Linked DNA regions of Homo sapiens: region 1 is linked to region 2. The links come from fine-mapping of genetic effects on gene expression. A gene starts in region 2. The other region holds a variant in brackets. All regions are shown on one strand. Distances are between the middles of the regions.

Region 1 (16,587 bases), 38 kb before region 2:
AATATTACTTAGAAACAAAAAGAATAAACTATTGATATACACAGCAACTAGGATGGTTCTCAAAGGCACTACACTAAGTGAAATATGCCAATATCAACAGGTTACATACTTTGATTCTATTTATATGACACTCAGGAAAAGGTAAAGCTATAATAATGAAGAACAGATCAGTGGTTGCCAGGGTTAGGCCTGAGGAGACAGTGTGACTATACGGGAGCAGCACAAGAAAATTTATGGAATCATGGACTGCTCTGTGTCCTGACTGTTGTGGTGGTTACACAAATGTATACACGGGTTAAAATTCATAGAACTGTATACCACACCCCCTAACAAGAAAAGTAAATATTACTGCATGTTAAAATAACAGGTGCTCACTAAACATTAGCTAGCTTCCTTTCAGAGGTATGCATTTAGATAACTTTCATATGATGATGGTCCATCCCTTTGGGGGGGAAAAATATCTCTATCACATGCCTTTAAATAATGCATGTCCTTTGAGTTAGTAATTTTACTTCTGAGAATCTATACTAATAATTTAAAATTCTGCCCCTCCACAAAAAACCCTACATATACAAAAGCAGTTGTTGTAGGTATAATTTTATTATAGTTAAAATTAGATCATGTTAAATATCTCCTAATAGTTTTATTTGCTTATTATTTTTAAATTACAGTACATGTATTTACAAAGTTTGTAAAAACATAAGGAAATTGTTTTATGATAGTAAATATAAAAAACAGGACACTTATGCTTTCACCTTTGTAAAAAATATGCATTTTTTATATATGTGTTGTTTCTGAGTGAATAGGACCCTGTTTTCTTCCAGTTTTTAAAAACATTTCTCATTCTGTAACAAGCACATGAAACTTTTAAATTTAAAAACTATTTTAAAAACTGATATTAAATAAGTCATATTTATGCAGTGATCTTTGTTAGTCAAAAACATTAACAAAACTTTATGGGGCAGAATGTTTATCATAATTGTATATTATAAGAGCAAAAGTCTAGAAACAGAATATCCCAAAAATAGAATATTCGTTAAATTATTATGCGTCTTATGAGAATATTAGCCAACAATGACAATAATATACATGGGGAAATGCTTATGATATAATGGTAGGTTAAAAAAATTGGACAGAAAATGATATCTCAGCTATATATAATACAGTATGTATGAATATGTGTATGTTTTAAAAATAAGTCATTTATGTTAAAGGTGAGTGGAATCCAACAATATTTATCAAAATATTAACAGCAGCTGTCCTTGGGAGACAGATGATACTGATCGTCTTCACACTTTTCCGTGTTGTTTAGAGTTTCCTCAAAGAGCATACGATACTTCCATCATATTGTTCTTGGAACATTTTGGACATGCAATTTTTATTAAATAAATGCTGAATGAATGTCCCCAAACAGAATTAATGGCTTCCTTATCCATGCTGCCAGAATACTTGGCATATGTTGTCAGTTAAATCATCTATCTATTCAGTAAACACCTATTGAGTATATACTATGTCTGACACTTTACAAGGCATTGATAGTATAGAACTTATCCCACCAAATTATGGCTAGTTGTATTCACATCTATGTATGTATACAACTAGATTGTGTTCTATTTGGATTTGGAACTGAGTCCCATTCATCTTTCTACTGCTGGAGCCTAATACAAGCTGTAACATAGTAGACATTCAGTAAATGCTTGTGGGATTGAATTCTCGAAAATTCACAAAAATGCCAACTTGGGGATGTTAATGGTTCCTAATATTTTATCTAGAATAGAATAATTAAATGTTACTCTCACAGCGCATTTATAACCATTACTGTCGTTTACTCCACGAGCCATATAAACTTCAGGCTCTAAACACCCAAAATACCACATTATTATGTTCTTAGCAAGGGATAATTTAACTTTGGGATTTACAAAGACATTCTGAAGTCTTCTTTATAAGAAAAAATAAATCATGAAATAAGTGTTTCTTCTTCAAGCTCTGGACAATCTCAAGCACTTCATGGCAGAAGAAATGTTCAACACTGTGCCATCGGAGGAATTATTTATTCTTGACCTAACTACAAATAATTTTATGTTCTCAAGTATAGAATTCACAATTCTCATATTTTATCTCAGCTAGCATAAACTGTAGGTGTTTTTCTTATTTATAAAAATGTCTTATCCTTTATAAAAATTCTTAAGCTATTTTTATATAGTGATTATTCCTGAAAACATTTGCTTTACACTTAAAAGGGGGGCCATAGTGTTGATCAGGGGAACTATAATTGCTTGCCATCCACCTGCAATGATTTCAAGTAGGCAGGCACATCTCCAATTTCTGTGAATTGTACTAAGATCTTATTTGCTGTTCTTGCTAATCTGTCTGTATTTTTCCTTTATCCAAAACAATAACATTTATTTCTGCCTGGCCTCATTTATGCACAGATATTCAATTTAATTACAAAGATAATCTCACCAGTGACAGGGAAATAGGCAGAGAAAATTGGTCTTTTGGATGATGCACAACTGCTACAGAAACAATTTTAGAAAAGCTTAAGATTTTAGAAAAGCTATTATATAAAAAGAATGCTTACTGTTTATTTACTTCAAGAAAATGATAAAGATTAAATGTGACCATTCCACTAGGTAATATTCCTTCCACAGGATTCCACCGGTTCCCAGGAAAGTTGACACCTGGCAAGTGCTTTGCCATCTTGGGTAAATACCACTCGTAAGTCATCATCTGCCAGAAAAGTCACACATAATGTCAGACTTTTAATATATTTCTTAGAAAGAATCAAGTTTATCAAGTAATGGCAAAAACCTAAATTACTTTTGCACCAACCTAATATATATATAATTGAAAAATATAAGCACAACTGAGAATGTGGTACTGATTACTTTTTTAGTGATGTAAACTTTGGATTTTATTATGACTATCATCAGTCACATCAGTACCTTCTTCCAATTTACCTCCCGCATTTGACTCCCCAGAAGGACCTTCCCCCATTCTTATACCTAGAGCAGGGGTCCCCATACTGGGCCGCACAGCAGGGGCCAGCATTACTGCTGTGCTCTGCCTCCTGTCAGATCAGTGGCAGCATTAGATTTTCACAGGAGTGTGAACCTATTGTGAACTGCACATGTGAGAGATCTAAGCTGCATGCTCCTTAAGAGAATCTAATGCCTGATGATCTCAGGTGGAACAGTTTCATCCCGAGACCATTCCCCACCCCCACCCCCAACCCCCAGTCTGTGGAAATACTGTCCTTCACAAAACCGGTCCCTGGTGTAAAAAAGGTTGGGGACCACTGACCTAGAGAACGTGTATTCAACTTTCAGAACCACTGTAAATATCACTTCCTCTGATGCCCTCCTCTGTCTCCATAGCCAGAATGGCATGATCCTCTAGTACTTTGTACTCACCTCTATGAGAGCCTGTTCCTCACCAGACTGTGAGCTCCTAGAAAAAAGGCACTGTATTTTTTCATCTCTGTGTATCTGCACCTAGCACACTGCCTGGCATAGAACGGTTCTCAAATTTATTATTATTATTTTGAGACAGTCTCACTCTGTCACCCAGGCTGGAGTACAGTGGCATGATCTCAGCCCACTGCAAGCTCCGCCATCTGGGTTCATTCTCCTACCTAAGCCTCCCAAGTAGCTGAGATTGCAGGCACATGACACTACACCAGAATAATTTTTGTATTTTTGATAGACACGGGGTTTCACCATGTTGGCCAGGCTGGTGTCGAACTCCTGGCCTCAAGTGCTCCACCCGCCTTGGCCTCCCAAAGTTCTGGGATTACAGACGTGAGCCACCACACCTGGCCAGTTCTCAAATCATGTTTGCTGAAATTGAAATGCCTTTGATGGCCAGACTAGACAACCTAGACAAAATAGCCATTATTTTATTCATTAAAAAAATCAAGTATGCTCATCTATAATGAATAAGATATAATCCCTGCCCTGGAGAAGCTCAATCATGTAATAATCTAGGCCTCAAAGTTAAAAACTCTTTTGGCATTTCAAATTATCTGAATTTATTAGTAGCCCTATATTAATTACATATCCTTACAAGTTTACACATTCTTTTGATTTAAATAATTTACTTATATTAGAAAAAATCATTTTACTTAATTCTATACTTAACACATACTTAACTCTATACTTTGATATGTATTCATTCCCTCTTTTTAAAGAAGAGACTCCCATTAACACCACCAAAGCTTTGTTATGTTCGGATATCATCATTTGAGAAATTGTGCTTATGTTTTACTTGTCTTATGTAAGACATTACCCAGCAAATGACAAATTAATTTTAATCTAAGTCTAAACTGTAAATACTCAAAAAATACTTACTGAATTAGGCTTTATTACCCAATAGTTCTGGTTCTGGAGGATATTAATATTAATTACATACCCACTGTGTGCTATGGACTTTACTGTTCCTCATTTGGTTCTCAAAATAACCTTGCTATGTGAGAATAACTGTATCAGACACTGTTGATTGCCCACTCAACAGTGAATACCTTCTTCTTTTTCACTAATGCAATCTTCATTTTGATCAGGTAGCTCAGGCTGCAATGTTCTCAGTCTAGTCATTCTCCTTTGCTAATAAGCAGTTTAGGTGTGAGTATATGACTCAGTATTGGTCAGTGGGGCCTGAGTGGAGGTCTGCTGGGGGGCTTCTGGGGCACATGTTATTTCCAATAAATAGAGAGAGGGAGATACCCCAGAAGAAGCACTGTGCTTTGTTTTAGGTTGTGATGTTTGGAACTGGGCATGCATCCTGTGACTGGGAGGGAAAAGTCAAGAGAATGGCAGAAAAACTGCCTCAGAAACTGACGTCCCTGAACTGCTCATATTATCAATCCTAACATCACCTATCTCCAGACTGCGTCTCATGTGAGGCTAAAAACTCAGTCATTTAAGTCAGGTATTCTGTTTCTTGCATTCAAATGCACCCTAACTTACATAATGATGACTTACATTTCATAAATAAGGGAACAGAAGCTCTGAGAGGAAAAATCATTAGCCCCATGTCACATATCCAGGAAGTGACAGAATGAGGACTTGAGTTTAGGTCTAATTCACTTTCTAATCCATGCTTCTCAACTACAGGAGCTGACATTCTAAACAGTGTTTAAAATCATAGTGTGGAACCATGTTATTAACAAATAACATAGCTTTTGTCAGAATCTAGACTGAAGTTCAAATTAATCAATCGGCATCCATGATATAAATGCAACTGCTTATAAAAATGTAAAATTGTATATTTACAAATCTGTTTATAAAGTTTTCTCCAAAAATTATAATTATTCATTAATTCAACAAAGTGCATTAAGTACTATGCCTAATAATTTGTTCAATTGAATTCATCATATTATTCTTTTAAGATTAAGAATTTCTCTTTTCCTAATGACTGCTCTAAAAACACCAGAGACAGGTTTCTTCCCTTTTATGTATCTATGGCTTAAATAATAAATCTTAGTTTAAATAGTTCTTCAATGAAAAAAAAAGTTTTCATAGCCCTCAAAATTTTCACAAGTCCTCTCTTAATGTATTTTTGTCACAGCATTAAGAAAGTTTATATAAAAATTCTATAGCATAATTATGGTTAATAATTTCTATTTTGAGTGAAATGTTTACTTACCTACAGTATGATTTATTTCATATTCAATATAATTTATTTTAATCCCTGGACCAATGGGCAAGGTAAATTTGAATGGTTGAGTTAGCTGAATATAAAATAACAATTTTTTTTTTTTTTTTTTTTTTTGAGACGGAGTCTCGCCCTGTTGCCCAGGCTGGAGTGCAGTGACACGATCTCGGCTCACTGCAAACTCTGTCTCCCAGGTTCACACCATTCTCCTGCCTCAGCCTCCCGAGTAGCTGGGACTACAGGCGCGTGCCACCACACCCGGCTAATTTTTTGTATTTTTAGTAGAGACGGGGTTTCACCATGTTAGCCAGGATGGTCTCGATCTCCTGACCTCGTGATCCGCCAGCCTCAGCCTCCCAAAGTGCTGGGATTACAGGCGTGAGCCACTGCGCCCGGCCTGAATGTAAAATAACAATTTAAAAATAGATTTACCATACAACAAACACTTTTATGGTTTGTCACATGAACTAGAGACCTAAAACATTATGAATCTAACATGAAACACATTAATTCTTAAAACGTTCAGTTTAAATGTTTTTAAATGAGAAAGAAGCAACTAGTGTGACTTACACTATTAGTTAAAATAAAAAAAAGTATGCCCATATATATTCTACCTAACATGTAGAATGTCATATATATTCTACCTAACAGTGATCATGAAAACTGTACCCGTCCACCATTTTAAAAAAGATGTTTTTTCCAAAACATATGTTTTTAAATCATCGCTATATTCTAAGTATATTTTTCATATACTTACTTCCTGATCCACTAATGAAATGTCAGGCCTCAACCCCTCACAGTAATGCATGTAACGGAGAGAATTTCCTGGCAAATCTCCTCTGAGTAAGATAATTGCATCATGAGGCATAGAGGTGAGAAGGTTCTTTGCGAACTTATCAATCACATAGTTGGTCCTTTGGTCACAAACACTAAATAAAAGGATCCAAAAAAATTAAAATAGCAACACTTTGCTACAGTTTTAATAAGACTAGGCTTATTTTCTATGCCATTCTTTTCCCATCATACAATCAACATTTAGTGTTTCAATACATTCTAAAATAATATGTATATTTGAAGAGAGAATACTATCACCTGATAAGCAGCAGCTAATTGTGCAATTGAAAAAAAATCAGTCTACTGCTTACTTCTGGAGTTTATAATCATTTCCAGAAAAAGGGAATCAGTACACAAGAATAGGTCCTTTTTTCCCCCTAAGTGCAATCCAATTTTATTTTTAGAAAGTAAGATTTCTGATTCCACTTGGAGTTTAAGGCAATTTTATGTTCATTCCATTTACTCAAAGGAACTTTCAGAAATGCAAAAGGAAATCTGCCCATTTCTGACTTGAATTTGTATGGCATTTGTATGATTTTCTTGCATGCAGAGGTTGATCCTTTCCACTTCTCCCCTGAATCACAGGCCTCCTGTGTCCCTCTCTGCCTTTGGAGATCAAGAAATTGCTAGGGAATGAGACCAATGAGAAGCAAGGGGAGGACGAGTTTCCTGAGTTGTTTACTTCTCTCCAGGCATTATTTGCTATTGCCAATAACTTCATTCTTTTCAAGAATGAAGTTAACTTTCTAACTTCAAAGAAAAACTGGCATGAATTCTGACAGCATTCTATGAAAAAAGAAAAAGATGACAAAACAGTAATTAGTATCAAAAAATGAGACAAGCAATGTCCTTTCTGTTATTACCAAGTCCATTACATTTGATGGAGCTGAGAATATCTGGGGTATCACAAAACAAATGAACACCTCTAGGAACAGAATATTATCCCTGCCTTTGTAATTGATGTAAAAATTACTGTTTCCTACCTGATTCCCTATGTTGCAGAGTGATGAGGCACATTTTGCCACCTAGCAAAAGTGCTATGTATTCCATTCCCCTGGGACAAATAAAAAAAATCAAAACAAGATAAAAACACCTAGCCTGTGCAAATATGTCTGGTGTCGAACCTGGACTGCCCTAATGGCCTGAGCCAGGAGATGACTGGGATAAGAAAAGGTTGGGAAACACACTGTGGGCTTG[G/T]TGCACCTTCTTGAGCTAGCGATGATGTTGTGTCCAGGACACGCAGCCCCTTCTCTCAAGGCCTCCTGGTGGCCTTCCTAACACCAGCTCTACCCCAGTATTATAAAGAACAATGTTGTGGGTTTTTTTAACTTTTATTTTATGTTCAGGGTACACGTGTGGGTTTGTTGTTATAAAGGTAAATTCACGTCACAGGGTTTGTTGCACAGATTATTTCGTCACCCAGGTATTAAGCCTGGCACACAATAGTTATTTTTTTCTGATCCTCTCCCTCCTCCCAGCCTCCACTCTCAAGTAGGCCCCAGTGTCTGTTGTTCTCCCTCACTGTATCCATGAGTTCTCATCGTTTAGCTCCCACTTATAAGTGAGAAGATGCAGTATTAGGTTTTCTGTTCCTCTGTTAATTTGCTAAGAATAATGGCCACCAGTTCCATCCATGTTCCTAAAAAGGACATGATCTCATTCTTTTTATGGCTGCCTAGTGTTCCATGGTGTATATGGACCACATTTTCTTTTTCCAATCTGCCACTGATGGGCATTTAGGTTGATTCCATGTCTTTGTTATTGTGAATAGCGCTGTAATAAACATTCGCATGCATGTGTCTTTATGTTAGAATGATTTATATTCCTTTAGGTATATACCCAGTAATAAGATTGCAGGGTTGAATGGTAAGAACATTGGTTTTTAAAGTTAAGTTAAAAGAGAAAATGTAATCCTTTAAAATAATACCAGTCCAATCTCACTATAGCAAAATTCCAAGGGACTCTCTTCCATTTCCATAATGTGTACTTGATATTGCTGGAAATAAACGAACTATAGTCTAAGACTTAGACGTCTTTTATGTCAGACTGAGATTTTTATTGTAATGGTTATTAAACAGATTTTTTGAAAAATACATGTAATACTAATAATATATGAGTTAAGAAACTTTAGAACTTAATTTAAAAATAATTAAGGCTGGTATAGTGGTTCACACCTGTTAATTCCAGCACTTTGGGAGGCTGAAGAGGGAGGCTTGCTTGAGACCAGGAGTTCAGGACCAGCCTAGGCAACATAGTGAGACCTTGTCTCTACAAAAAAAAAAGAAAAAAGGCATGCTAATGGTGGCATGTGTCCATAGTCCTAGCTACTGAGGAGGCTGAGGCAGAGGACTGCTTGAGCCCAGAATTTCACGGCTGTAGTAAGCTACGATCATGCCACTGTACTCCAGCCTAGGGGACAGAATAAGACCTTGTCTCAAAAAAATTAGTATTTACTACTACAGAGTAAACTGGACATAAAGGGAAGCATAAAGTGAATTATTTTAGGGTATACAAAAAACTCTAAATCATTTTACTCTCCATCTAAGTGGTATTTTAGGTCATGGAATTTTACCTATACTAGGGATTCTAAAAGTATCTCTTGGGTTCTTAAGAGAAAAAGATACAAATTGTCTACACGCACCACCTAAACCCTTGTTTGCAATGGCCTGAAACCATTCATCGCCCATGCTTTAACTTTTAGGTTTAACGACCCTAAAAGTTAAAGAACTACTGCATTCAACCAAGCTGTCTCACTTTGAGTCTTGAAAACCAGAAGTTAACAATGAAATAAAGTGTTAGAATCTAAATATTCAGGTATCTCTGGCTTGACAGCTACTTTTCATAAAAATAACCATGTATTACCTGTAATTAGAATATATTTGGTAAACTACAAAAAGAGTTGCAGAAAGCCATTCCAGACACTGAAGCCCATTGCTATTCAGCACTCGGTTAGTCTCAGACACAACTGCAGCCAAACCAATGCCAGCGAGGACGGCCACTACTGCATTGCTCTGCATCCAGAATCGTTCCACCTGTGAAAGAGACATGCAACCAGTGGGTCCAGTTGACTATTTAATGCTATCAATCAGCTCCTCATATATTTTTTAAATATGCTGCATGCACCTAGTTGTGTGTGCCTGTTGTCATTCAGGTTTTGTTAACTGATTTCCCCAATCCAAGCCCAGGTCATTTTATTTTTCTATTTTCAAACATTCTTCCTTCCCAGTTTGACAGGTGCATCTCCCTTTTCAGATCCACACATTCATTTCAATACTGTGGCCTTAGTCTTGAACTCCAGTAATATACAGGCTGAAGGAGTTAGAGAAATGCTTTTGCTTTACTCCTGATGTTTCCTTCCACATGGAGAAGCTCCACTGTCCTGGCCTGTCTCTGACCCCTCACGTATTTCCTCCTATAGGATGTAGGGACTGATCTGACTGGGGAGTTTGGGAGCTGGGACTGGGCCTGCAGCGCCCTCCCTTTTCATCTCACTTTCTCCTGGAAGTGAGCTACCCACAGGAAGCACTTGTCCAGGGCTAGAGTCTATCTCTGTGGCACCAGTGGGGTGGGGGAGACAGGGAAGAGGCCTGACCTGCACAGCACTGCCTATGACTAGTGGGTAAATCTGTCTATTCTGGGATGCTGGAAGAGGAAGCCCCCTTGGCTACAGATATAAGCTGCATTTTCCAATCTCAGTATTATCAGTAATAAAAGTGATTCTCCCACCCGTTGTACTGTATTACCTTGTTTCTCAATTGATTCAGAACTCAGGTGATCAAGTAGGGTATTATTTATTAGGCTTCCTGAACACACACATACGCAGACTTTGTTTCAGCTGTCAAAAAAGTGCTATTGACATTTACAGAGAATCTATTGTAAGTAGAAGAAATACTCTAATCTCAGAGACTGCTGCCAAAGAAAACAGAAATACGGTTGCTCTTTTGCCTAGGCCTGGGACTGGGGAGGTAAGAAATAAGGAAATATGTTGTTAAGTGCCCTCAATTACAATTCATATTTCTTTTGCTGTTAAAAAAATTCCAGGAGAAATGCAGTTGTACCTATATTTGCAAGCACACACACATACAATGACTTAAATCTACTTTACATTTACTTTTCTATTTAACAACTGTGTTAAACACTGCATTCTTTTTATCCTAAAAAGAGGCCTTAGCTGTATTGACTCAATAATTCAACTTTGATTTATAAAAATGTATATAAAATTTTAACTATTCCTCAAGTAATTTGCCCTTCTACAAGATTTATGAAATGCAAATTTGCACATTCTTCACAAACTTTCTGGTCAAAGGATATATCTAAGTAAAACTTACCACACCCATGAAAAGTGGTTTTGAAATATCTAAATTTGCTCTCCAAGCAAAGAACAATGAATAAATGCAAAACATTCCAGTAAAAAGCCATACTAATGATGGATTCTGTCTGTCCCTACAAAAAATAATAAAAATATGTCTAAAATATTTAGATACATGAATGTCAAATATAATATCACAGGACTTTAAACTATTAGATCTATAAAAACTTTCCATTTTTAACTAGGAGCAAAGAGAGATTTCGGTTTTTAAAATCTGAGTTGAAACAAATAACCAAAATATAATAATAAATTTGAACTACAACTTGGGACTACGCAGTAAAGGATATAAAGCTAACATTCACAGAAGAAATGCAAACTACTGATTTTGTTAAATTTCAGAAGTGATCAAATACAGGCAAAATAGAAACATTTTCATGCTTGAAATAATAAAGATTTAAGAACGATAACTCTCAATGTTGGTGTGCAGTGGTATGACAATATATGTTAGTATAATCCTTCAGAAAATTTAATTTGATAATATCTATATCGGAAGCCTTAAAAATATTAATAATCATTGACTCAGTTATTTATCATGCAGGCATAAATCTTTAAGCAATAACCAGAAATGTAAATAAAGATTAATCCATAAAAATGCTTTGTTATTACTTATAATAGTGGAAAAAGTGGAAGCAATCTAAAGACCTCTCAATAGAAGAACAGTTAAATTAATTCTCCTGTGGTCATAGAATGTTCTATTATATAGACATTTAAATGATTTTAAGTATTTTTATAGTATGAGAAAATGTTCACAATGTTTGTGTCAAGTAAACAAAACTATAGATAAATGTACAAATATACATTTACATACAAATGCATTCAACAGACTAGATCATAAATGAATAAATTAATGGAGATTTACAGTGCTACATTTTTCAGGGTTTCTTTTGTCATCGGATCACTTTTATCATCAGAGGAATTTAAATTATTGCTTCTTTTTAAAATCAGCAATAATAATCGGTTATAGCAGAGTTAAGGGATCAAACCTGAAGTTTAGGACATCAAATGACTGTCTACTTAGATGTAATATAATGCTCAATTTCTTGAAATCATTGATTTATTTAGAATCAGAATAGAAGAAAGCAATACACGTTTATCTTAATAGACAGCTAGGAGAGTCATTTATTTGGAGTATAAAATAATACTGGCAATGTCCTACAGCGACATACTGAAAACATTAATTCAATTCATGAACATAGAAAAATAACAGAAAAAGGAATTGTATTACTTACTTTGTTGCTAAACATATATTTGCACAAACTGCAAGGGCTTGGATGTTGAATGAGAGTTCGGTCCTCATATTTGTTACTTGAGAACTGCAAAAAACAATCTAACTTATTGTTGGCAGGAAACAAATTTGATTGATTCCAAATAAAATAGTCCTTGTAAGATACCATTGATTATATACTGAACAATCACAAGGGCTGGGGTCAGATTTTAAAATTTTGTCTTTTAAAGTTGGAAGAAAAAGTGCAATAGAAAGACTTAAATAGTTCCAAGACGTTTTCCAATGGTAACATTTGGTTATCAACTTATATAATTTGGAATAGGATCAGAACAAATAATTCTTCTGTATTTTTTATATTGGTATACTGTATAGAATATCCCCGACTGGTTTGGTAGGAAGCTGTTTGAAATGAGTTTTTGAACTTTTTTCTCTTGGCAGTGTAGACATGGCCTCCAGTGATTTAGCAAATGATAACAAAATTAATTCAAATAGATTTCTGGAGATCTAATATGAAGAAAATAAAGGCCATGAGAGATAATTCCCAGCCATTCTTTTGTGGGTTATTTTTTTCCTTAATTGGTTTCCTTGTTTTCTATATTATTTGTTTTGGTTCAAAAAACATTTAAGCAATCTCAGAGAAATGTATTATGTTTTTTTCCTACAAATAAACTAAATTCTTCCATTAACTCATATGCATTTTCAGGTGTTAAAATTTGAGTTCTAAAATAGCTTCTGCTCTAGCTGTCTCCAATTGTTAAAAAAGAAATGACTCTATACATCATCTCAAAGAACTTTCTTCTCCCTACCGGCAATTTTACTGGAGAAAATGTGATACCATAATTATAGAAACCATACAATGTGTATTTTACTAATGAAGACTCATCTACTATGAGAAGATATCCTTACTCATTTTCAAATACACTTGAAAAAATTGATTCCAGCATGAGGCCCATTTCAAACCATTCTTCAAAAGGAATGAAGTCAGTCTCAAAATTATTCTTGGAGATCTATTGCTTAAGTGTAAGCGCTAAAAGATGGTCACTGCCTAAGGTTAGATTCAATAATTTCCTTGTACAGGATTGCAATTTAGAGATATGCATGGGGAAAAAATTTAATTTGCTTGACTGGAAAAGGGTAGATGATTAGCTTCTATCATTTTGAAGGATTTTCTCATAAGTTAATTATGAGTTGCCTTTTTCAATGTTCCTGCCCACCTGAAACTATTAAAGACTAGACATTCTCATTCAGGGAGTGCTAAGATTATGCCTTCATTCTACATGATGACTTGGTCCACACAGAACACAGAAGTGTGGGTGTGAGTGGTCATCACTTTTGTCAAGTCTTTTTTCTGGGTATACAGCCTGCTATTATTTTAATGTAAAGGAGGCCTTTAAGGGTCCCAATAGATGACTTTTATGTGCAACTAATAAAAGTTAGACATATGGTCTAGGATTACTCTCAAGAGTTCTTTGGAGTTCATGTAGGGTTTGCTAAGACAAAATATACCAGTTATCCTTAATGCTGTAACAATCTCTGGAAGGTAGATAGAAAAGAGCAGGCAGTGAGTCCTTCTGCATGGAGCAAAGCAGAATAAAATGAAAGCTCAGAGACATTGATATGACATTTGACTGTCTTTATCTTTATTTTTTTATTTTTTGAGACAGAGTCTCACTCTGTTGCCTAGGCTGGAGTGGCATGAAGGTGGCTCACTGCAGCCTCGACCTCCTGGGCTCAAGCGATCCTCTCACCTCAGCCTCCTGAGTAGCTGCAACTACAGGTGCATGCCACCATGCCTTTTTTTTTTTTTTTTTTAATGTTTTGTAGGCCGGTTGTGTTAGCTCACTCTGGTAATCCCAGCACTTTGGGAGGCCGAGGCAGGTGGATCACCTGAGGTCAAGAGTTTGAGACCAGCCTGGCCAACATGGTGAGACCCTGTCTCTACTAAAAATACAAAAATCAGCTGGGCGTGGTAGCACACACCTGTAATCCCAGCTACTCAGGAGGCTGAGGTGGAAGGATCACTTGAACCCGGGAGGCGGAGGCGGAGGTTGCAGTGAGCAGAGATCTCACCACTGCACTCCAGCCTGGGTGACAGGGCAAGACGCCATCTCAAAAAAAAAATTTTTTTTTTTTTTTGCAGAGACGGGTCTCACTATGTTGCCCAGGCTGGTCTCAAACTCCTGGGCTCAAGCGATCCTCCCACTTTGGCTTCCCAAAGTGCTGGGATTACAGGCATTAGCCACCGCACTCAGTGCCATTTTTATTTTTGAAAAGAAAACTGAGCTTCTTGTTACATTCCCCCAGCGAAAATGAGAAAGCCACAAAAGTCTCACACATAAAAAGAAATATTTACAATCAATGGTGAGAACCATCAAAAGGTTACGTGAAAGTAACTGATGGCAAGGAGGTATTTCCAAGATATAATGTAAAGTGAAAAACAGCAGGCTAATAAAACAGTATGTTTACTATGATCCTACTTTTAAAAAGAAATAAAAATCTTAAAAATATTAGAAAAATATAGTCATTAACAGATTAATAACAGTGGTTATCTCTGCATGTTGGATTTATAGGTAGTTTTAATTTTCTTATTTTTGCTTACCTGTATTTTCTAAGTTTTCTATAAAGCTTATGTACCTTTTTTGAAGTAGAAAAAAGAAGTTGTTTAAAAAGAAAGCAAGGAAGGATGGCTGGAAGAAAGCAAGCTATTAAGTAAATTACACCGAAACTGTGAGAACTCATAAACTGCCTCACATATAAAGTTGAAATATTCTCCTCATAGTTTTTTTTCAAACAGCCCCAAGAGTTCCAAATTAGTAATTAGTTAGGACATCACTTTAGTGTTGTAGAAACCTATTTTCTTCCAAAATTTTGTATCAAGTTGGTATGGATATCTTTCCACTTGTCTTAATCTGTAGGTTTTAAAGCAAATATTAACCCAGTTTTCAAAGAACACTATTAAATAATATACATGAAAATATATTTGCTTAAGCCAGCTCTAATAAGGTTGGATGTTAAAAATATGTAAGCCAAAGATAGAGCTTACGGCAAGGATAGCCTAAAGAAGTCATAGGAGACATTACATAAATTAAACTCTGAAATACTAAAATCCAAAATAACAAGAAAATAGTTGTTCAATTGAAGGTTGAAACATTTTAGTTCTATAAATGCTCTATATAGTATTCTAATATTCACCGTTGTGTTTATTGCTCATTTTAAGCTCTATCTTAGTGAAGGAGGTGCTAAAAATATTTGACAGTACAGTCGGCCCTCTGTATCCATGGGTTCTGCCTCCATGGATTCAATTAACCTTAAATCAAAAAAAAAAAAAAAAAGTTGGGGAAAAAACTGTCTGTACAAACATATACAGATGTTTTTTCTTGTCATAATTCCCTAGACAATACAGCATAACAACTATTTACATAGCATTTACATTATACTAGGTATAAATTATCTAGAGATGATTAAAAGTATACAAGAGGATGTAAATAGGTTATATACAAATATTATGCCATTTTATATCAGGACTTGAGCACCCATGGATTTTTATATCCTTAGGAGTTCCTGTAACCAATACCCCATGGATACTGAGGGACAACTGTAAACACAAACAACTGTTAACTGTAGAGGTAACAACTACTTCTCAGACATACTTTGTTACAAAGAGATGAACTCAGAAATCCCTAAAATCACTTAAAGGAACTAATAGAGAATTCATTTTAAAGTAGTTTCAAATATTTCATACTCACAGCAGTATTTCAGACATACTGGATCCTATTTCAGATTTGGCCTAAACACAAAAGACAAAAGTTTATCTGCACAAGCATTAAACTGACGCTTTATTAGGCTATTGTATTTTAATAATCTTAAAAGATTCGGGTTTTCTTAAAACAATTTTTTAATTTTAGGTTTCGGGGTACCTCTACAGGTTTGTTACACAGGTAAACTGCGTGTCAAGGGAGTTTGGTGTACAGACTATTTCATCACCCAGGTAATAAGCATAGTACCCAATAGGTAGTTTTTTTAATCCATTCCCTCCTCCTACCCTCTGCCCTTAAGTACATATGTGTCCATGTGTACTCAATGTTTAGCTCCCACTTATAAATGAGAACATGTGGTATTTGGTTTTCTGCTCCTGCATTAGTTCGCTTAGGACATTAACTCATTCTTTTTTATGGCTGTGTAGTATTCCATGGTGTATATGTATCACATTAAAAAAAATCCAGTCTACCATTGATGGGCATTTAGGTTGATTCTATGTCTTTTCTATTGTGAATAGTGTTGTGATGAACATACGTGTGTATGTATCTTTAGAGCAGAACAATTTATATCCCTTTGGGTATACAGCCAATAATGGGATTGCTGGGTTGAATGGTAATTCTGTTTCAAGTTCTTTCAGAAATCGCCACATTGCTTTCCACAATGGCTGAACTAATTTACACTCCCACCAGCAGTGTATAAGCATTCTCTTTTCTCCAAAACCTCACCAGCATGTTTTTTGACTTTTTCA
Region 2 (16,587 bases):
TAATATTATTAATATTCCTATATTCTAGGTAATCTACTTGACGTTAAGAGAGCTGATGTCTTACTGCACAATATTAATGATGTTAGGAAGTATTTTTATGTGAGTTTCCTGAAACTACACCTTTTTGAAAAAATATTTGAAAAACTGCCTATTTAATAGTAACTTTGTATTACTTTCTTTAAAATAAGCACTGAATTTTGATTATAAAAAATAAGAGCTTTACTTTCAATTCACATGAGTCTTCAACAAATATTGTGGAATGAATTCTATAGTTCCATTTGGCCGGCAATAGTTTGAAAAGGATAGGCTGACTCTCAGGCCTGTTGAAAATACATCCCCTGCACTGTAACTACCAAAATAAATGACACGACATATACCCTCCTCTGATATCATAAGCAATGTAAATCTTCCCCGAGGTAAAGAATTTTTATACAATGCTATCAACATGCTCCCTTCTCTTTTAGTGATACCGGAACATATGAAGGATGAGAATATAGATGTTTAATGATAGTGACTTCAGTACTCCTTCTTTATTCAGTAAATAAGACCTAGTTTGACATTTCCTAGAAAATAATTTTGAAATTCAAGCATTAAATAATGTTAAATGGTGTTCATGTTAATGATTTATATTACCTATAACTTTAAAATTTTATATTAATAGGATTTGTGAATTTCAAATAGAATAGGGCATTTTAAATATTATGCTATTAAATCTAAAAATCATTTACTTTAATAGCCTTAAAAAAGAAAACCCCAGTTCCCAGAAACCACTAACTATATTACAGCCTTAGAAACACAGATGTACACATTAATAAAATGAATACTATTTCATATAAATGAAATGTACTAGATTAAACTCCCCTAACATAATGCATGCTTAAAAATACTCCTTAAGGGGACAATACATAAATACTTACAGAAACAACTGCCACAATCTTACTATTTTTAATTCAATAAACTACAGTGACACGGCTTTCAATGTGCTGTTTTACTCATATGCTTTCTACATTAGAGCAAAGCAAATATAAATGAGTTCTTGCCAACCATTAGGAAAGATTGACAAAAAAATGCAGTGTTAATGACATCTTACAGCTTTTAAAAGCAAGAGAAAGATGCAAGAAAAGCAAAAATTACATAGTAATTGGAAACAACGAATAAATTGGTCTTTCAATCTAAGTCATGTTTACTGAAAAAAATGGAGCTTTTTACATCAACACATTTAAACATAAATTTGCTTTTGAAATAAAATCTTTGTTTAAAAGGTACAGAAGGTCTTTATGTCCACCCCAAGAGCTAAATATAGTGAATGCTATGTGAACAATTACCTGAAAAAAACCTAAACCTGTTAAAAGAATTAATTTACTGCACACCAGTCAGCACTAATCCTACGTGTACAGTAATGGTCTCTTAAGTGATGGGGGAAAGAAAGAATAAAACTGTTTCCTGGATCAAAACCCTTCAATATTCAACAACAAAATGGAATGATGATTTGGTTTGTAAATGAATAAAGTAGTGAAACGTCTCCTAAACAAATTCTGATAAGGGAGTCAAGCTGCAAAGAAACACATTTATTGTACACTGGAACAGGAAAAAGCCATCACTGTAATGGTTGTACAAAAACTGTGTCCTGCTGTTGGGTTTATATTCACAGAAGAAAGGTTTTAAAGGTTAAGTTCAGGTCATACAACAAATGAAATTGTAACAAGCCAGCTGACATTGTATAATGTCTTCTTCCACTCAATCAATAGGCTACTGTTAGTCCTATTACCATAGAGATGGCTTCTCCTTTTTGAAGGGTGTCTATTGTTTGACAAAACAGATTTGCCACTTGAACTAGGTTATTCCCAAAGGACGTGTACCTTGTCAATTATTTGTATTCAAAATAATGAAGTATTTTCATATTAAAATTATGTAAGAGATAATATTGTTAGATCCCTTTTCTGAAAGAAAGCAACTTTTCCAAAGCACATACTATATTATTAAAACTACTCAAATACCTAATTTAGTCATATTAAGAGATTCAATTTAAAGCACATGTCAGCAAGTATAAAATATATCATTAGCCATGCATATTAAAAGAAAAGCGTTACAGGCTAGTGTGCTAATCTAAACCATTATAATTAATCATAATAATTAATAAAAGCTATTTTTAAAGAAAAGTACTGTCCAGAGCTATCCAGATTCTGTAAATTTTTAAGACTTTTATTTACGATTCTTACAGTAGTTCTCATATGGAATGGTATCAACAATTAATAATGTTGAAAAACATGGAAAAGTTTTAGAAAATGAATCCCTTTACTTGCACAAAGAGCTATTTATAGCTATATAACATTTAAATATATGTCTATGTTACATAAATGATCTAAAATACAGACTATCAAAATGAATATATTAGTCTTCTTTAAATGTTTTTGTTCTAAAGTATCTTGTGAAAATTAATAATATACTCATTCAATACAGAACAAGGAAGTTCCCATTCAACCTAGATATTTAAAAACAAAAAACACTTTTTCTCTCAGTGGAAATACTGACAGATTATTAATTACAAAAGACTCAGAAGGAACAATTCTAATAAAAATTATCCTAACCATTGAGAAAAAGAAAAATATTAATAGTACTAATGAATCTAAGCAGAAACATTATTTTAAATATTTCATAAAGACTAAAATAACAAATTTAATAATATAACAATTTGGGAAAAGATCAACAGTTACAATACTTGAATCTGAAAGTTTTTTCACATACAGATCAAAAGTAAACTTCAGAGTTATAATTATACTAACTCTTATCTTTCTATAAATAATTAAAAGAGAATTTAGAATTTGGCTAAAGGGCAGTATTATGACTTTGACACAAATAAAAATATTGGTCTCCAAAAAAGACATTTGAAATTGTACCTATTCAAATTATATTTACCTACAGAAATCATTTGTTTTATAGTAAGACATGCAAAAGTTTTTAGAAGAAGTGTTTTAATTTGGTTTTTCCTTTTGCAGAAAGTGTAATTTGTATTTTTCACTATAATCCTCTTAGGTATAGGATGCACTGAGTTAAGAATGAAGGAGACAGAACATCAAAGACAATGGGTTACCAGCATTCTAAACTAATGACCAATGTTTTAAAAGCAGGGTAGACTTCCAACCTAAGAAAGTCTTCTATCAATGAATTACTTGGGATCTAATTTGCCTACCTTTACTACAGCCATAACGGAGCAGAGTGAAACCTTACTAAAACCACATCCCAAATTGATTTCCTTAGTTAATATCCTTATTTCAGAAAGTATACAACATGTTCATATTTAGAATACAATATAATTAGGTATTAGCCCTGGACCTGATAGGCAGCTGCTCGTCAGCAATACTGTGAATAATTAAATGATATTTACCATTTACCAAAAGATGAACCTCATATTGTTGAATTAAACTGGCCCATCTGCATCTTCACAAAATGACAAACCTCATTAGTTCTGCCTAATCAGAGAACTGTGATAATGAACTGGTGACACCTTCACTCCACTGTAGGAAACAAAACCAACTGTGTAATCATTTGAGGGGTCAAATGCATATGAAAGTATTATAAATTAAGAAAGTGAAATCACATGTGTTAGGGAAACCAAGCAACAAAAGATTTTTTTAATGTATGTACTTGAGCCATAAGAAATCTACATCTCCAACTGCTCAAAATTAATTTTAACTAATCAACTACTTTACCTGAAAACGGTGAAAAAAAGTAATGATGCAGCTACTGCTCCAAATAAGCCACAGAGAAGATTGACGCGGTAGGCAATTGAACCAAAAGGAAACAGTGTAATTGCCAGTTTAGCCACCAGCGTGAACAAAGGATAGCCAGGAGGATGGGCAACCTACGGAAAAATTAGCAACAGTTAGAAGGTTTTCATCTAGGAAAGGAAGAGTCCCACAGGCCTTAATTGAAAAGTAGCCCTTTTCTCAAGCAGCTATAAAGATTAGGCACCAATGACTAAATGTTTGAATAGTGGTTTTCTATTGTAATCCTCTTGAGGCAATACAAATAAATATTTTCTTTAGTGGATTTGGCAGCGTCTATCACATGGTGCGTCACCCAGAGAAAGGGTGACATATTTCATTGTCAGTTCTTAAGCAGTTTGTTCTCTGGGTTCACAGTACATTAGGGTCATTTAAAAGGCTATTGAAAAAAAGCAGGTTCTGAAATATCGTATTGGTTAGAAAGTTGAAAGACCACACTGCTATCGGATTACCACCATGCTGACAGTCGTAAGGTCTTGCCTGAAGGGATCATGCACCATAATAAAGTTTATTAAATAATAAACTTATTAAAACTGTTAACCCGATTTATTTTATTCCCCACAGCTTATACAAAATTTGGGGTGATAATAAGGCAGCTACTGTATATATAGTAAAGGCTTTGCTTTATAATTTAGTTTAATTGGATTTAAAACTTAAAGTAAATTGTCACGTACTGTACTTATAAGTTACTAAAAACGGGGGTTTGAAAATAAATTAATCTACTTTACTCCATGCTTAATTAAACTTTCTTAATTCCTAAAACTGTTAATGAGAGCATTGATTAAACAATAAAACTAATACTTACTCCAAGCTCATGTGCGGCTGTGATCAGTTCCCCTGTGAAAAAATAATGTAAAACCAATAATTACTATTAGAGAATGACACTCCTCCAAAGTTTTCAAAATCCAAATGCTTGCATTGGGGTTTTGCATTAATTTGACTGGATAAAACTGTAAATCTGTAGAGATTTAACAGCATGAAATAGTCTAAGAATATTTTCTCCTTTAGGTCTTATTGAACAAACTATCTTTGATAGTCTTTAAGAAGTGGTCAGTGGAAATATAGGTACATTCTGGTCTTTAAAAAATGCTTATTTTCCCTCTTGAAAGTTGTATCCACTTGCAAATATACAAATACTGTTGGAGCATTAGTGTAATATGCTTTATTATCCCTCAAGAAATTAGCACGAAAGTCTATAAAGATACAACCTTATAGTAAGGTAAAATGCGCAGACATCTGAGGTTTGGACACTCCATAAAATGTCCCATACTACCCTAAAACTGGCATTTGGGTATCTTCTCCACATTAATTGCACTGGATATCTTTAAATGATTTCCAAGTGTTTATTAACTCCACGTTATTTCGGTAAGGTTCACTGTAAGACATTTTTTCAAACCATTAAATAATATTCTTTACATAGTCCTTTATAGTTCCTCACCATTAGTGACTATTTCTAAAATTATGATGCAGTAATTTGATGCCTATTTGTTAACCTTTTACGTATTCAGAGCACAGGGACTATTTCTGACTCATCCCTGTACATTGTAGTACCGTACAATGTAAGGAATCAATATTGATGAATGACTCATGAAAGTTACTAGTACCTATTAGGAAATGTACTACTGTCCACTTCCTATCCTTTCATAGATAGCAATACTCTGCATTTAATTTCTGTCCCAGCTACAATTTAGACCTTTACTCTCTCTGGCCTGGACTATGGCAACAGACTTGACCAATCCTACTTCAATTCATCTTCATACTGAAATCACTTATAATCAACACCTGCCTTCCCCCATGCCCCTAAACACATACACACACACACACACACACACACACACACACACACAAAAGGCTGGATTGCATCCCTAGTCTAAAATTTCTCAATGGCTGCTCTCTGCTTACTGAACGAAGTTCAGATTCCTCAGCATGACGTTCAAGCTTTCTATGGTTTCAAGGTCCCTTTTCTAGGCTTATATCCATGAAACCTATGTTCCCTCCAGTCAAATCTTATTACCCACTGTTTCTCTGGAGTGGTCCTCTTTTGCACCTCTTCTCACTCATTTTCTCACCCTGGAATATTTTCCCTAGCATTCTCCCCCTAAATCCTTCAAGGCCAAGTTCAATTGCCACCTTCTTGGTAACCTTTCCTTAGACACCTGCTTCCCCAGCCTCCCCATCAGAATTAATCACTTCTTCCTCCTCCATAGAACCTGCTTGAGTCTATTTAGCACTTTAGATGGCCTTATATTCTGGTTGGTTTTCATTTCTCTCTCCCACTAAGTTTAAAAACATTATCCTATCCATTTCACGATCGTGCCAGGATACCACCACCTCTCCCCTCTGGCCACACACAAAGCATCAATTCAAGCCATACACACAGAGGTTAACAAAAATACACATCACATTGTCATCCTTGCTACTAAGACACCCCAGTCTTAGGTGACTGCATCATGGAAGCCTTATAAGGGCACCTGAAGACAGATTAAGTCAATTACTTAAGGACATTTGTTAAGAGATATTCAAGAGCACCTGAGAAACCAGCACATTTTATATCCTAAATGCTTCTTTTTAAATAGTTTATGGTCTCACAATGTCTCAAACAACTGTTCCCTTTGTTAACTACTGTAAAGGATATGATTTTATAGTTTACTCCATAATGGATTAGCTCTTAAGTCTTTAGCTCCAAACTATTTTCGATTTTTTTGTTCCTGTAATCTTTTTGTAACGAAGCCACCATAAATTCAAAATTTCAAAGGTCACTATTCATTCTCCTCCATTTAAAATGTATTCAGAATTACATTTAACATTAAGAAAAATAGGCTGTTTTTCTCTAACTTCTTTTTACCATGGAAAAGTCAGTGTGCTGTTATTATTTGCCAGACTTCTGCTGCTATAAAGATAAATCTGGAATGTGACAAACTTTCATCAATTCTTATCAAATGTTAAACTAAAATCGAAATAGAAAAGATGTCCCCATTCAACGTCTCTAAATGTAACCTTGATAAAGATCTAAAGGGAAATACTACTCTTAAATTGATTGTGATAAAGAGGAAGGGAATAGTAAAAAAACCTCGAGCTTCCCGAGTCTTGGCTTTCTCCCAACCCTTTACATGAAAGGTTCCTCAGTTGTGTCTACCTGCATCAGAATTAACCTGCTTTTTAAAAATGAAGATTCCTTGCCCACACCTCCAAATTCCATAATCTACTAAGACCCACTTGCACTGGGGGCTCAAGTTTCCCAGGTAATTCTGAAGTACGTTCCTGTCTGAGAACCACGGCTTTGTTGTCTGCAATACAAACTAATGGCAAGCCCAGAGTTGTCAGCAGATGCTTAACCTTTACAAAAACCAGCTCCCTTTATATCATACTTCTCAATATTAATTAGACTAGACTGTCACACATCACATCTGTTAAAGACAGTATCTTTGAAATAAACTCACGTACAAACTAATTTAGTGAAGGCCAGATTCCTACCCCCTCCCCGAAAAGCACCACAAGCACCCTGCCCATAAATGAACTGTGTGTGTCAAGTGGTACAAAAAATAATTTTGGCAAGACGACACAATGTGATGAATCTATGGAGTAAAATGTAAGACTTATCAGGAAGAAGAATACATGCTTTATACTGGTTTTGAGATGTGTTCTGTTTATTGATGAAAATATAATTCATAAACATTCAAGAATAGTGCATTCAACATGTAAACACAATTATCAAATATACGATAAAGCAAATTTTCCATATTGGCATATACTTGGAAAACAGTTTATCATTCCCAAAAATGAACATAAAAATATTAGAAGCAACCACTATTTAACATCAAACCAAACAAAATTAAAGCACCTAAAGTTTGGTAACTCAAGGTGAATACACAACTTTATTCTTTTAGGAAAAAATAAAATACAGTATTAATAAAGGCAAGGCAATAATCATGATTTTAAATAAATTTTAAACATCACTACATATGTGATGGTGGATTTAGAAAAGAATTTCATGAAATGTTTTGACGAAAAGTAGAGGTTAAGGGGGCATATTCTGAAGTCAATATACTTTTCTTTTCCTGATTTCTCTACTTTGTGTGACTTTGGGCATAGCTTAGCCTTAGTTTTCCCATTTATAAAAGGAAAATAATAATTGCACCTACTTTTAAGGGTAGCTGGGAGGGTTAAAACAACAACCCATATAAAGCACTTGGAACAGTGCCTGGCACATAGTAAGTGCCCAACAAACGTCAGTTATTATAAATCTCACTCCCATCCTTCACACTCAACCAACCATAAGTAGCTGTCAATCTTTTTATTTTTTTACAAGTAACAGAACTACCTAACCTCTGAATAATGCTCTCCAGCACCAAAACTCACAACTATAAAGTTACTTCCATTATGAAATACCAATCTTGGTAACACTGTACAGAAACTCCCTACTACACGAATGAAACACTATCCCTACTTGTGCAACAGGACCTGAAAGAAGAAAGGTAACAATTTGAAGATGTAACATCAAAGATCTTCAACGTGGTAGGCAGCCCTAAATATGATCCCCACTAATCCCCAAGTCCTGATATTCTCACCTGTGTAATCCTTCCCCCTTGAATATGGGTTGGGTTTACTGACGAAGTTCCAGGAATAAAATGCAGAAGTGGTATATCACTTACAGTATTAGGTTACAAAATGACAGAGCTGTCAGACAGAGAGGTGTCCTTCATCTTTTTCTTGACAGAAGTCAGTTAACTTATGGAGACCCACATAGCAAAGAACTAGATTGCGTTTCTCCCCAAATTGAGCCTTGAGAAGACCGCAGCCCCATCGCACACCATGACAGCAACCTTTTTCTGAGTACGAGCATCTAGCTTAAACGGCACCCAGACTCCTGATTTACAAAAACGGGAGACGATAAACGTTTGCTGTTTAAGCTGCTCAATTTGGGGATCACTAGTCATGCAGCAAAAACTGCTTCTTCAGTCCATAGGTTCACCACCTGAAATTACAGCACTATTCTGACAAAATTACTGGCCATGATATGGCATTATTGAATCCAAAAACAAAACATGGATCTTGTTTCTTGCATCAAATACAAAACAATTAGTGTGATTTAAGGGCCAATGAGTCATGCTTTTCTTTTTCATAGAAACAGCCGCACCTGGCTTCCACCTTTTTAAGAGTTCTCCTGCAAATATTCTGCATGGCTAGTTCCTTCTCAATATTCAGGTTTCAACTAAAACACCACCTCTTCAGAGGTCTTTCCTGAATAGTCATTCGGAAGGACCCACTACTTACCCCCACTCTCAATCATATTTCCCTCCTACTGTCTCCATAACTTATCACCAGTGAATATGCTGTTTATTCATTAACTTGTGTATTGTCTAACCGCACTGGAACACTAGCAATTATCTGTTCGCCACTACTGTTCTTTTGTTTGAAACATAATAAGGACACCGTGAATAATATCTGTGGACTAAAAAAGACTGAAAGTAAATACTCAGGACCAGGATAAAAGATCTGGGGAAGTGGAGAGGTCGATAAGCCCCACCAGGCGAAACCAACAATACGCCCCATCTCGAAAACCTGAGAACTAAAGAAACCACAACGACAGGAATGGAAACAGAAGTGGGCTCTGGAACACACAATAGTGCGCTGTGCACAGGGGGGTGGATGGAGGCCCAGAGCTGACCAGACCGAATGCCAAGAGCAGGGGCCAGACGCAGACCCTGCCCGTTCTGGGACCAGGGGAGAGGGACAGAAGGGGCAACCCTGCGAGTACTTTACCGGAGTCTCCCCCCGGTACCGAAGGGGGCAGGGTGAAGGTGAACACTGCGGCCACGGCGGCGAACACCGCCACGCCGCCGCGGATGCCCCCGGAGCGCCGCAGCCCCACTCGGACTGCCCGCCCCTGGGCCTGGCCCCTGCCGTCGCCATGGGGACTCATGGGCCAGTGGCGACCGAGGGAGAAGGACACGGCCAGCCCAAGAACCCGGTGCGACACGGAGCTCCCCAGCCGAGAGACGAGCGCAGCTTGTGCGGCGGCCACGGCGGCTTCCGGGTCGAGCCTCCGCGGGTTGGACCGCACCTTTCTCCGCCTGAGCGCGGGGAGGAGAAAATGCCAGGCCTCCCTTGAGCCAGGCCCTGCGAGTTTTCCCGCAGTGCACCACGCATTGGCGTTCACCTACTTATAATGTGATTTAAGGTTCCTAATCACCAGGAGAGCATTCCCTTTAAAAAGCAAGCCCGGCCACAGGCCTACCTTCTCCATGGCTATTCCCCCCTTTTATACTGACTTGGTTGGGTCTGACAGAGACCAAAGCAGCGTCGAAAACCGCGAGCGAGGAAGGGCTGCTCCTGCCCCCTACGGTGCGGGGTGGAACTGCACAAAAGGGCCACGATCAGCCAGGAGCCCCTACCTGTGCTAAAAAAAAAAAAAGGGTGGTGTATTTACCGTATGTGCAAAGTAAGCCAATAAATACATTAATCACAATTATGTATTTATTACGATTTACTACGTTACTATGACTAATTACAATAAGTCTGTGTGCTACTTATTAAATCACTGAGTAATTTTTAGAGAGATTAGAATATGCTAGTGCGTCTTTTTTTTTTTTTTTCATTCCATAGCATAATGAAAACTCTGTAGATGAGTCGGGAAATTTGAGTTCCTGTATTCATGCAGATAACTCAAACCATGATAAAGGTGTCTCCTAGTTTAATGAAGAGGAGTGTTTTGCTGGAGCTTTCAACACAGCAAAGTGGAAAATGAAATTGAATCACCATATTTTACAATGAGCTGTAACGCAAAAAAAAAGAATCGGAGCCGTTAATAAGGACAACTACATAACAGCGCAGTTAAGCTTTTTAAGCTTATGTTTTATTATTAAAGCAATTATCCTGGAGTGGGCGGGGAGGAGAGCAACCCGCATAAAATGTATCTCAAAGACACACTGAAAACCAGTGACAATCTCAAACGTGTTACGCGCAATTTGATAGAGACACAGTGACTAAACTATAGAGTAACATATACCTACCTTGACGGTCATGGGGCCAGCACACCTTAGTCTTTTCCAGGTACTTATACAATTTCCAGCCTTTTCCAGGTAATTTCTCAGCTGTACTGTGAGTTCCTGGAGGAGAGGGGCTGTGTGGTAGAGTGCTTCTAAAATGGATTCCCAGATAACCCTGCCTCCTCACTCACTTCCTGTATAAGCTGCTCGCCTTATGTGTGAGCTTAACCTAAGGATTGGCTTCTATCAATACAATAAGGCAAAAGTGATGGATGTCACTTTCAAGATTAGGTTATGAAAGACTAACTTTCATCTTGCTGGCACTCCCTCTTGTCCTCTCACTTGTTCTCTCTGATGAAGCCACCTACCATGGTGTAGGCTGCCCTGTGGAAAGGTCCACATGGGAAGAAACTGAGAGCCGCCTCTAGCCAACAGCTGGCAAGAAACTGAGACCTTCAGTCCAACAACCTTAGAGGAACTGAATCTAGGCAACACCATGTGAGGGAGCTAGGAAGTGGATCCTTCCCCCACATAAGCCTTGAGATAACTATAACTCCTGTCAAGACTTGGATTGCAGCCTGTGGATGACCCTGAAGCAGAGGACCTAACTAAGCCTCATCCAGACTGCTGTCCTATAGAAACCGCGAGATAATAAATGTTGTTTTAAGTTGATAAATGCAGGCTAATTTGTTAGTTATCAGCAATAGATAGTTAAGATAGGCTGTCTTCTATTTCTTTGCTGAAAGAACATGCCAATGAGTAACCTTGACTGGGTCAAGCATATACTTCTTTCCCTTTTTATGCATTTCACTTTTGCTCATGAGTTTTATTTAAAATTTTTTTATTTTGGAGGGGAATAATTCTTTGTCCATGTTTGGGAGGTAGAGATCAGTGCTGGAAGTACAAATTTAGGAGTTGCTCGTGTAAGGATGATATAAATGACTAACTTGATAAGGGGATAGTGTAGAGAGAACAAGGTTGAGGTCTAATGTCAGCCCATATTCTCATTTAGGGAATGGCTGGAGAAGGGGAGAGAACAGTGTAAGAGAATGAGGCATCACCAGAAGCTAAAGAAGAAAAGTCGATGAAGTACATGTGGTCAGGATGTTACAGAGAGGTAAAGGACAATGAAGAGAGGCACGTCTAGATTTTGTGAAGCTCAAGTGTATAAAACTTGGAGAATTATATGTAAGTAAACTGATATAAAACTGCAGATACAGAATTAGGCACAAGATATTGGAAGACACCTGGGCTAGAGAGGAACTGTGAGGCCTAAGCTTCATTAGCTTCATGGTTGTTTTCCTTTGAAGATTAAGAACTTCCAGTTCTCTGTTTATGTCTGACTCTACCTCTCAGTAAGCATCTGACTATTCCTTCCTCCCCGGAAGTATTTTCTTTTCTGGCCTTCATTGATAGCACACTCTTTGGTTTTCCTTTTATCAATGGCCTCCCTGCCCTGGCTCTGCTTCTGTCGGTCCCCCAAATGCTGAAGTATTCCTGGGCTGTTCTAGACTTTTCTCTCTTTCTGTCTTCTTTCCCGAGATGATCATATTGAAGCTTTAAAGGGCAACTATGGGGCAATATTTCTCAAAATTAGACCTCCTCTGCTTCTCTTTTTTAGCGACCGATTATTTTAAAAAACCCAACTGCCCCCGACCTCTCCATTTCTATGTCTAAATAGCCTGTCAAACCTGATGGACTTTGTCTAATTTCCACCATATTTAAAATGATGCCTGGCACAAAATTGGTGCTAAACAAATATTTATGTAATAAATGAATACATGAACAATCAGAGATCACTGGCATATCCGTTAGGGATTGCATTTAGCTACTAGTGACAGATCCTGCTACAGTGTCTTAAACATTAAAACAATCATTCTCTTATATAAAAGAAGTCAGAAGTCTATAGGAAGTCAGTCTACCACTGGCTTGGCAACTCCCTGATTCCACTAGGGACACAGCTGAAGTCCTCATATCTTTCTGCACCATCCCACTCAGCTCACATTCTCAAGGTCATCTACTGATCCAAGGTGGCTGCTAATGCTCCAGACATTACATCTGTTCTTGAGGAAGAAAAAGAAAGGATGGGAAGAGAAAGGCCTGCTCCAGCTTTTTTAAAAAAGCACTATTTTTTTAAATGCTATTCCACAATTTTGCTATATCTAATTGGCCAAAATTGAATAACAGGTCACTCCTAGGGGCAAAGGATGCTGCGAAATAGACTTTTCAGCTGGACAGTTTGCCTAGAATTCTATTACAAAGGAAGAAGGGGAGAATGGATACTGAGGGGCAACTAGCAGGCTCTGCATGGTTGGATTTGGTGACCTGGAGGTATTTGAACCTTGAAAGTTCAAGAGGTCAGCTTCAGTAGAGTAGTATCTACAGAAACAAGGTACTAGTGGGCTAAGAAGTGAGCAAATGGAAGACATGAAAATAAAATACATTTGCAAAAAGTTTGGCAGTGAAGGGAAAGAGAGAAATAGCATGAAAATTCACAGGGATCGAAGTGTCAAATGAAGATTTTTGAATGTCTTGTTTTGTTTGTAACTCAAGGGAGTATTTGGAGAGACATAGTGATGAAGTAAAGATGTACAGGTTATTGGAGAGGATGGGACTGAGGAGGACAGAAGAGAAGGGTTGAAGATAGAAAATGTTAGAGATAAAGAGAGAGACCTCATGATGTCTCTCTTTACACATGATGTGTAAACATGTGATCGTTGGACTTGATCCTGAGACAGACCAATAAGACATATAACGAGTATTGATTTATTGTTTGTGCTCTACATCATTCTATGATGGCTTAGAGTTAGCCACTATAATACAAACCATAAAGCAGAAAAATATGTAAATAATTTGGGATTCATCCAGAGAAACAGAACTAGTAGGAGATATGTATGATACAATTTATTGCAAGGAATTGTATAATGTAATTTTGAGGGCTGGCTAAGTAACTCTGAAGCCCGTAGCACATGCCATCAGGAAGGGAAGACTGGAACTCCTGGGCATGGCAGAAAGCTGTTGTCCACAGCTGGAAGTTTTTCTTCATCAGGGGACCCATATCCCTGCTCTTAAGGCCTTTCCACTGATTGAATCAGGCCTACCAGATTAACTATGATAATCTCACGGTTTTGAAGACAAATGAGGCTGGGCATGGTGGCTCATGGCTGTAAACTCAGCACTTTGGGAGGCTAAGGTGGGAGAATCACTTGAGGCCAGGAGTTCGAGACCAGCCTGGCCAACATGGCAAAACCCCATCAATACTAAAAATACAAAAAAAAAAAAAAAAAAAAAAAAAGCCAGGTGTGGTGGTGTTTACCTGTAATTCCCGCTACCCAAAAGGCTGAGGCACGAGAATCGCTTGAAACTGGGAGGCAGAGGCTGCAGTAAGCCAAGATCATGCCACTGCACTCCAGCCTGGGTGACAGAGCAAGACTCTGCTTGGAGAAAAAAAAAAAGTCAACTAATTATGAACTTTAGTCATATCTACAAAATACCATCACAGCAACACCAAGATTCGTGTTTGATTGAAAAACTGAGGAATGTAGCCAAGCCAAGTTGACACATTCGAAGAACATCACAGAGGCCAGGGAACACTCAATTAGATATAGAACATCAGATTGACGGAAAGTAAATACATAGATCCATGGCCCTATGGTACCCTAAATTTGGCTCTGGGAGTCTTCCTGGGATTTATGGCCAGCATCTAGCTTCTGTTGAAACCAAGGAGATGGCTCCTCATTATTGCTGAGCAGAGGTGGACATTCCACCTACCTGCCGGGCCTCTACTGCTGCCTCCCTGCTGCAAGGTAAAGGAGTCCTCGTCACTATTCCACTTGTGGTTTCCACTAGCACCACATGGTTATGGGGGTATGGAGATGGCCTCCTTTTCCTTGGACAGTGGTGAAAGTCCTGACTCTCACTAGGCTGCCTCTGATACTACCCCAGAAGGGAGGGAAAGGGGGACCTCATTCTTTTTGGGCAGGGGTGGAAGTCAAAGATCCCCACGTGGTCTCCACTGCCACCATGGAGAAGAGGGGTCTCATTACCACCCAACCAGAATGAAAGTTCTGGCTTCTTCCTTTGCCTTCTTTGACATGACCCTGGTGGCATGTGGAGGCACCTGGAGAGGGTAGAAGTCTAGGCTGCCCACTCAGCCTTCCTCATGGTTTATTCTTTGGTTTTGGCTACAGTAGAGTGATTGTTTTCTAAATGTATCTGTCTTGCCCCTTTCTTGGTCTTTTAGCTAGAGGGACGAGGCTTTTTGTTGGGGCTTTTTTTTTTTTTTTTTTTGTCTGGGCCCATTGGCATCTCTGGGTTGCTAGCTTCTTTAGCAACCAATCTGTGATATAAGGGGGAAAAAGAAGTCCAGGGACCTCACCACTCTGTTGTTCTTCAGATTTCAGAGCTCCTGCCTCAACTGCCTTTTTTTCTTCACATTTTGAAGTCTTATTATCTTTGTTTTATATATAATGTCCAGTGTGTTTAGTTGTACTTAGCAAGAAGAATTCAAAAAAAATACCTATTTCATCTTTCTGAAAGCAAAAGTCACTCCTCTTTGTTTTATTCTGAGCATTCAGAGTAGCTTCACAGACATTAATGCACTGAAATTCACCTACAAATTACAATTTAGATGTCTAATTCCCCCAAATCCCACTTGATATAAAGTCAATGTCTTAATATTTCTAATATCAGTGAAATTTAAGGTTAGCAACTTTAGACTAGAAATTGGATGCCTAGAATACCATCCGGTAATCCATCTACAATAGGAAAATGCAAGAGATACAAATATCCCTGACAAATGCCTCAGAATAGTAATTTTAAACATATAAATGTATTAGTAACCAAAGGAATTTGAAATAAAAATAAACAAATGCCATTTCCACCTTTCCAATTGTCAAAGGTATTTAATAGATATGGGGGATTGGTGATAAGGGAATTTGGTATAATATTTTGGAGGTCAATGTATCTATGTGTATCAAAAATTTATAAAGATATTCATATAATTTGACCTAGAATTAATTGTAAGTAAATATTCATATACATCTTTAACTTTACTAGTAATCAGAGAAATACAAATGAAAACCACAATGAGATACTACACACCTACTAGGTTTGCAAAAATTGAAGTCTAACTATATATGATGTTGGCAAGTGTTTGGAGCAATAGAAATGTTACCAGGAGTATAACCACTTGGAAATCACTTCCAACCACTTGGAAAACAGGCATTTCTAGTAGAGTCAAAGGTGTTTAGAGTCTGCCACTCAGTAATTCCACTCCAGGTTTACACCCAGAGAAGCCAGGAGACACGTACAACATGTCCATAGCAGTGTTGTTCATAATAGCCCCCATACAGGAACAGCCTCAAACATCTATCAGTGGCAGAATAGAGAAATAAATCCTCTCATATTCATACAATAAATAGTATACAACAAAGAGAATGAACAAACTATAGCTAGCTACCATGGAACAATCTGGGTGATTCTCACAAACAAAATATTGGGCAAAAGGAACAAGTTATGATAGAACACATGTGGAATGATTGTAGTTATTTATTTACTTATTTATTTGTCTGTTTATTTATTTTTGAGATGGAGTTTCACTCTTGTTCCCCAGACTGGAGTGCAATGGCATGGTCTAGGCTCACTGCAACCTCCATCTCCTGGGTTTAAGTGATTCTCCTGCCTCAGCCTCCCAAGTAGCTGGGATTACAGGCGTGTGCCACAATACCCGGCTAATTTTTTGTATTTTTAGTACAGACAGGGTTTCACCATGTTGGCCAGGCTGATCTCGAACTCCTGACCTCAGGTGATCC

Which allele goes with the higher level. Positions count from the first base shown, and alleles are read on the strand shown. Sizes are in standard deviations (SD) of each study's normalised expression.
In carriers of allele T in region 1, the expression in unexposed skin of the gene that starts at base 9,825 in region 2 tends to be lower than with G alone (small effect, 0.14 SD a copy in GTEx).

Evidence for each region. PIP is the estimated chance that this variant, and not a neighbour inherited with it, causes the effect.
Region 1: its variant is the best candidate, but not a certain one, in a credible set for the expression of TMEM260 in unexposed skin (GTEx, PIP 0.74).

What each region holds. Positions count from the first base shown.
Region 1 is chr14:56,611,525-56,628,111 of GRCh38, reverse strand. TMEM260 (transmembrane protein 260) reads right to left here. Exons shown (of 16, transcript NM_017799.4): 7 at 15,827-15,867; 8 at 12,085-12,168; 9 at 10,815-10,929; 10 at 9,349-9,518; 11 at 6,410-6,581; 12 at 2,582-2,730. Among named protein-coding and RNA genes, the nearest start is that of TMEM260, 40 kb to the right of the region's middle. The variant G/T (reference allele first, on the strand shown) is at 7,684.
Region 2 is chr14:56,573,036-56,589,622 of GRCh38, reverse strand. It overlaps TMEM260 (transmembrane protein 260), which reads right to left and starts at 9,825. Exons shown (of 16, transcript NM_017799.4): 1 at 9,549-9,825; 2 at 4,591-4,622; 3 at 3,711-3,862. The coding sequence starts at 9,708. RefSeq lists a silencer at 9,538-9,757.